Linked DNA regions of Homo sapiens. The protein of the gene in region 2 interacts with the protein of the main gene of each other region in a pairwise test. Each region holds a gene or a part of one and is shown on either strand. Other genes may lie near its edges.

What was found. The genes of interacting proteins can lie anywhere in the genome.
Region 1: the proteins of NUP133 (region 2) and NUP85 interact in binary tests that used the Homo sapiens proteins (3 or more experiments, as listed by UniProt).

Annotation. Positions count from the first base shown.
Region 1 is NC_000017.11:75,208,668-75,212,289, reverse strand, and holds part of NUP85 (nuclear pore complex protein Nup85), read right to left. Parts: intron 2,468-3,622; coding exon 2,305-2,467; intron 299-2,304; coding exon 228-298; intron 1-227. UniProt on the Homo sapiens protein: Essential component of the nuclear pore complex (NPC) that seems to be required for NPC assembly and maintenance. As part of the NPC Nup107-160 subcomplex plays a role in RNA export and in tethering NUP96/Nup98 and NUP153 to the nucleus.
Region 2 is NC_000001.11:229,484,282-229,487,903, forward strand, and holds part of NUP133 (nuclear pore complex protein Nup133), read right to left. Parts: intron 3,333-3,622; coding exon 3,185-3,332; intron 2,248-3,184; coding exon 2,090-2,247; intron 1-2,089. UniProt on the Homo sapiens protein: Involved in poly(A)+ RNA transport. Involved in nephrogenesis.

The sequences.
Region 1 (3,622 bases), on a different chromosome or scaffold from region 2:
CTCAAAAAAAAAAAAAAAAAAAAAAAAAAAAAAAAAAAAAAACAACAACAAAAAAAAAAACCTCTAAATGATTACCAAAAAAGTAAGGATTATGAAAGATGGAAAAATAAGTTTTGGACTGGAATATCAATCAAACTTTACCTCACAGTATTTATGCATAGATAAATACTCAAAATACCCACACACACACACACACACACACGCGCGCACGCGCACACAGTCCTTACTTGCAACCTGGTGCATTTCCTCCATACATGCTCTGATGACTGATCGGTAGTTTTTACTCACTCGAACCAATCTACAAAAAATGAAATAACACACAAGATGAGCCTGGAACATCTTGTAGTGCCACAAAGGAAGGAAACACTCAAATAAATGCAGAAATTTGCTGAAAGAAAGAGGAGAGCCGTTGTGAAGGAGCTCCTAACCTTCTGAAGCTGGAACAACTTGGACAACAAAATAAAACGCCACAAAACAACCCATGGGCTAAAGTTAATATCCACAAACCCATACTGCCATTAATTGTTGCAGATGAAATCTACTGGTCAGACCTTGTCTCAAAAAAATAAAAAAGATACATAAATGTATTTACTGGCCAGGCCCGGTGGCTCAGGCGTGTAATCCCAGCACTTTGGGAGGTGAAAGTGGGCAGATCACCTGAGGTCAGGTGTTTGAGACCAGCCTGGCCAACCTGGTGAAACCCTGTCTCTACTAAAAATACAAAAATCCCAGCTACTCAGGAGGCTGAGGCAGGAGAATCTCTTGAACCCGGCAGGCGGAGGTTGCAGTGAGCCAAGATCATGCCATTGCACTCCAGCCTGGGCGACAGAGTGAGACTCCATCTGAAAAAAAAAAAAAAAGAATAAGACAGGGTCCCCTGCCAGCAAGGAATTACAGGACTTTTGACATGTTTTTTTCCTAGAAGTGACAATAGATTTCTCAAACTCACCAATATTCTCCACTAGAGTCCCTTAAATCCAATAATCAGGCCAGGTGCAGTGGCTCACTCCTATAATCCCAGCACTTTGGGACGCTGAGGTGGGCAGATCACTTGAGGTCAGGAGTTCAAGACCAGCCCAGCCAAAATGATGAAACCCCATCTCTACTAAAAATGCAAAAATTAGCCAGGCGTGGTGGCACGCACCTGTAATCCCAGCTACTCAGGAGGCTGAGGCAGGAGAATGGCTTCAACCCAGGAGGCAGAGGCTGCAGTGGGCCAAGATTGCGCCACTGCACTCCAGCCTGGGTGACAGAGTGAAACTCTGTCTCAAAAAAAAAAAAAAAAACAGGGCCAGGCACAGTGGCTCACGTCTGTAATCCCAGCACTTTGGGAGGCCGAAGCAGGTGGATCACGAGGTCACGAGATCGAGACCATCCTGGCTAACACGGTGAAACCCCGTCTCTACTAAAAATACAAAAAATTAGCCGGATGTGGTGGCAGGCGCCTGTAGTCCCAGCTACTCGGGAGGCTGAGGCAGGAGAATGGCGTGAATCCAGGAGGCAGAGCTTACAGTGAGCGGAGAACGCGTCACTGCACTCCAGCCTGGGTGACAGAGCGAAACTCTGCCTCGAAAAAAAACAGAAAAACAACCAATAATCACTCTTGCACACACTCACACAGAAGCTGACCTGAGTCTTGTCCAGAATGATTCATTTGTGAAAAGCTTATCAAAGAAGTAACATACCAACACTGCCCATTCCCTAGCCATCCATGTGAAGGGACGCTGACAAAAATCTAACACAGGAGTTCTTAAACTTCAGTGTGCTGGAGATTTTAAGATCCAACCACGGAGATTTTGATTTTGATGATCTGAGGTGGGTCCCAAAAGTCTACAATTAACAAGTACCACTCTGATAATGATGAAGTTATGAACTACAATTCAAGAAAATCCTAATCTATAAATAGTACGAGAGTTTTCTGGTCTGTTGTCAAATAACGTCTGAACCATAATTTTTTAGAGACAAAACTGTTAGGTTTATATTAATTTTCAAATCTCCCAACAATGTGACCTCATTCAACGACTCTCACATGCTTGTGTGGCCTAAATTTTCTTCTTTAGAGGCTAAGTAAAATATGAATATAAATAAAGCTTGTCAAGCCAGCCCATCAATAGCATTTGCATATTCCCGCTAAGTCTTCCCATCACTGCTAATGTACACTGTCCAGTACTCATGCCTCAACTAGAACCAGGAGTCTCTTATTTCTTTACGCAACCCATAAAACACACAAAAAGACAACAATGTACTTCATTTGGCTTTCCACAGTGTAGTGTGGGCTTCAACACCAAACAGCAACCAACTTACTGAGATTTTCTGGATTTTCCAGTCAACTCTTCGTCAATTCTCTGGAGGCCCAGAAAGATTCCATGGGATTCATTGAAGAGTTTTCTCAAGATTTGAGAGTAAACATCTACATCCTTACGGATGATATAGATAAAGGGGCAACTTGGCACCATCTCTGATTTTTCTGAAACCAAACAGAAAAAAAAAATTTAACATCTATTATGATCATCTCCAAAAGTGAATCTACTCTAAAAAAATTTTCTGTGGCCGGGCATGGTGGCTCTTGCCTATAATCCCAGCACTTTGGGAGGCCAAGGCAGGCAGATCACGAGGTCAGGAATTCGAGACCAGGCTGGCCAACATAGCAAAACCCTGTCTCTACTAAAAATACAAAAATTAGCTGGGCGTGGTGGCACATGCCTTCATTCCCAGCTACTCAGGAGACTGAGGCAGGAGAATTGCTTCAAACCGGGAGGCGGAGGTGGCAGTGAGCCGAGATCACACCACTGCATTCCAGCCTGGACAGAGCGAGACTCCGTCTCAAAAAAAAAAAAAAAAAAAGAAAGCAAATCAAATGTCAAGATTCCAGTTTTATCCTTCTACTGGAAGGAGACTGTATCACTGTATCAGGAAAAGAAAAAGATTCACATCCTATCCAATAGCTGATGGAACTCAGGAAAATCAAGCCAAGGACAAGCTATGTCACTCTCCAGCTCCATCTGTGCCTTGGATGCTACGGCTCAGCTCAGCCTACAGAACTATTATTCAGCTGAATCCATGCTGTGGACACAAAAGTGACGGCCAAGCATCTGCAAGGTTCACAATAAGGGAGCTACTGATAGGAATTTGGTCACTTTGGACAAAGAAAAAGGGATAAAAAGCTTGACATTTTAAATATGAAGAAAATTTTTCATGAAAACTATTAATTTTTTTCCGGGATTCAACATCTTCAAGATCTCAAAAATCAATGAAAATCTAAAATAGCTAACATTTCAAAAATAAAAATGCCAAAATGCAACAGGATCGCTTGAGGCCAGGAGTGCGAGACCAGCCTAGGCAACAAAATGAGACTCCCATCTCTACAAAGAAAAAAAAATTAGCTGGGCGTGGTGGCATGGTGACCTGTAGTCTCAGCTACTAGGAAGACTGAGGCAGAGGATCACTTGAGCCCAAGAGGTAGAGGCTGCAGTGAGCCATGATCACACTGTACTCCAGCCCAGGTGACACAACAAAACCCTGTTGTATCTTGAAAACAAAATAGAGAAAATTAAAATAGTACAAAATAAATTCAACTGTTTCAGTCCACAACTAGTAAAATCTGAGGTAATAAACAGAAAAA
Region 2 (3,622 bases):
GTCCAATCTTTTGGCTTCCTTGGGCCACACTGGAAGAATCGTCTTGGCCCACACATAAAATACACTAACATTAATGATAGCTGATGAGTTAAAAAAAAAAAAATTTATGTTTCAAGCAAGTTTACGAATTTGTGTTGGGCTGCATTCAAAGCCATCCTGGGCCGCATGCAGCCCATGGGTTGTGGGTTGGACAAGCTTGGTCCATACCAATTATTCATATACTTATTGAAACACTATAAATAGCATCAAATGATCAACCAAAGTCATACAGAAAAGGTACAGGTAATTCAGGGATTATGTTGTAAGTAAAATAATTTGGACATTTCATCATAATTAACAGAATCTTTTTATAGGTTTGCTCTTACACGACTCATCACAGTGTATACTACCTAAGCATAATGGTTGATTACAAATTTAAACAACGGTTTAGAAAAATTTTAAAGAAATGGAATACTATAAAATTGCTTCAGAATGTATAACAGTATTATAATAACCATACAATTACAAAATAGATATTAATCCTTTTTTGTAATCGTATTAATTACAAAATACAAGGTATTTTGTACTTTGTATAATTTTGTATAATTACAAAATACAAAATGCAAGGTATTAATCCCTTTTGTGAAAAGAAAAAAAAGTTAAAAATTGTTTCTTTCCTTTAAAACTACACTTAATCACTTTAATTTGAATTACAGAGGTAGTCTATATATTTCATACACTATTCAAATGGAAATTACCCCAAACAGTATTAATTATTTTTAGTCTTCTGTAAAAGAATGATAAAAATCTTATGGATAGGATATTTCAGGTTTCAAGACAACAGAATAAAATTGGTAATTTTTACCTGGCTATTCCTCTCAAAAAATCATCCCAGAATAAAAAGAAACAGAAATACAAGCTCCTTGGAAATATCTGTGATACTAACTACAACAAAGGAAGATAGAAAGCAGAAGGAATGGGAAATGGCCCCGCTGACAGGAGATGAGGCCACCTATGCATGGTGCAGAGGACAGGTCCTGAGGATTTGAGGACAATAGAAAAGGGAAGTTCTGGGATGACAGCTGTGCAGATGGAAGGTTTCTGGAGACTTGACTTTGGGAAAAACTACATTGAGGGGCACTCTACAGAACTCCTGGAGTGTGTAAAAAGATTAAGTCACATATGAAAGGAAAGTGAGAAAATACAAAACGAGGTCATTATACACTCCAAGAGTCACACAAAGTTCTATAATAAAGGACATGTAATCAGTATTTGGGATCAGCAAACCATAAACAATATTTACATTGTCATTACAATGAAAAAAATTTATGTTAGAATGATAAAGGCAGAGGAAGGAGTATAAGGTAACCCAAAACCTCATTTTCTGTAGTAGAAAATCAACAGATGCATCAGGAGACAGGAATATATGTACATTACTTAGATATATGGAGAAAAATACCAGAATAAATCACTAAAAGGCTTAAATGTAGTTGCTCCAGGCAAAGAGGACAGAAGGGATGAGGAAGATAAAAAGAACTAATGTCTGCATCATTACGTCTTTGAAAACTGTCTCAGTTTTGAGACCATTTGTATAAAATAATCTGATAAAACTAAAAATTAGGCTGGGCATGGTGGCTCCACGCCAGTAATCCCAGCACTTTGGGAGGCCGAGGCGGGAGGATTCTTGAGCCCAGGAGTTTGAGACCAGCCTAGGCAACATAAGGAGATCCTGTCTCTACAAAAAATAAAAAATTAGCCAGGTGAGATGGCGCATGTCTGTAGTCCCAGCTATTTAGGAAGTTAAGAGGGGAGGACTGCTTGATCCCGGGAGGTTGAGGTGAGGCTGCAGTGAGCTATGATTATGCCACTGCACTCTAGCCTGGGCAACAGAGTGAGACTCTGTCTCAAAAACCAAACCAAACCAAAAAACAAAAAATTAGCCAGGCACCTACTGGGAAGTCTGAGGCAGGAGGATTGCTTGAGGCCAGGAGTTTGGGGCTGCAATGAACTACGACTGTGCCACTGCACTCTAGCCTGGGTGACAGCGTGAGACACTATCTCTAAAAAATAAATAACATAAAAACTTCAAATTCTTATCGAATCACATTACCTCACTGTTTGGTCCAGCAACTGAAGATGCTAAAGACCCTTCCAAGTCTTCTGCCAATATAGACACATTTTCCCTTGAAGTAATAGACACCAGTCCACTGTTTCTAGAAAAAATGATAGGAACACCACCACAGGCACCAGCACCTAAAACACTATCTCCTAAAAGAAAGGAAAACAGAGTCAAATACATCTAACAATAACAACAAAATGCTATGTAAAAGCTACCACCCTAAGCAGAAAATCATCTTGATGATATATTAAGCACATTTTTTCCTTTACAACATTAGTCCTACTTCGAACTCATCCTTTACATCCCAGAATCAAATGCTAAGAACCGGTTGCTATCTGAAGAAGCAGGCTCTGTGTCTTTCAGCTTTAAGGACAATAAAAACTAGCCTTGCCAGACAGCAGTCAGTCTAGTAAGCCAAAAAAGAAAATTATTCCTTCTGCAAAACTCAGAAGAAGAGCTTTTTCAATCCTGTGGAGTTCTCTTAATTCTGACTTTAACTTACCACATCAGTCAATGGGGACTGGAAAAAAAAAAAAAAAAAAAAGGTCTAAGCCTACCTGGCACCTTAGTAACATCCTACCCACCCTCTGTCAAGGTTCTTGTGCTGGGACTAGAAAACCTGGGTTCCATGCTGTTGCCTACCTGCACTCTGTCCTCTGCCCAACCCCTTCAGCTAAGTATCTGCTTGGTTCTTCTTCAATCCTGACCAGCCCCCCTGCATAAGTCCAGCACCTGAAGCTCTTCTTATCTAGGGGTGTGGAAAAGTTAAAGCATCAACTCAGAATATGTCACTTTTACTAACTAGGAATAAGCAATTACTTCTCTTGGCAATAGTTTTTTGCTTCTTGGCATCTTCTCCTGGAACAAATGTTACTATCTTTGTCTGTAAATATAATAGTTTGGAAATTCTAGTACCCTTTTGGTTTCTTAGTAGGGTTATGGCTTCAGCTGCTGTAGTTGTGGTATGAAATGTCTCAGAAACATTTGAAAGCAGCATGCTTGAAGTGACATTCAGGGAAAGAGAAAAAAAGCACTCAGAATGACTAATGAGCTCACCAATCATGCTTTCTAAAACTGCTACTGTACCTTGTGCATTAAAGACAATTTTCTCCTGGGGAAGAGAAAATTTCCCAGTTCCTGTGGAGCACACATAGACAGCACTTTCGTTATACAGATAGGCAGTCTGGTTTGAAAAGTTTGGGACCGTCAACTGACACAAAATCAGGTCTTCAGACTGAAAGTTAAATTTAAGATTACATTTAACAAGAAGTAAAACAAAAATATTTGTATGATTTTTTAAATTCATTTTTGTACATTATTTCATAAAAATATTTCACCAATTCTCTTTGTAAAAATCTGAACACTACCCATGAGATGATTAACAAAACATGACAGAGTAAGTTTATAAACATCAATTAGACATATATTTTGTTGACTTGCTTATAATTTGCTTTTTTAATTTTTTTTTTTTTTTTTTTTTTTGAGACAGAGTCCCACTCTGTTGCCCAGGCTGGAGGGTAGTGG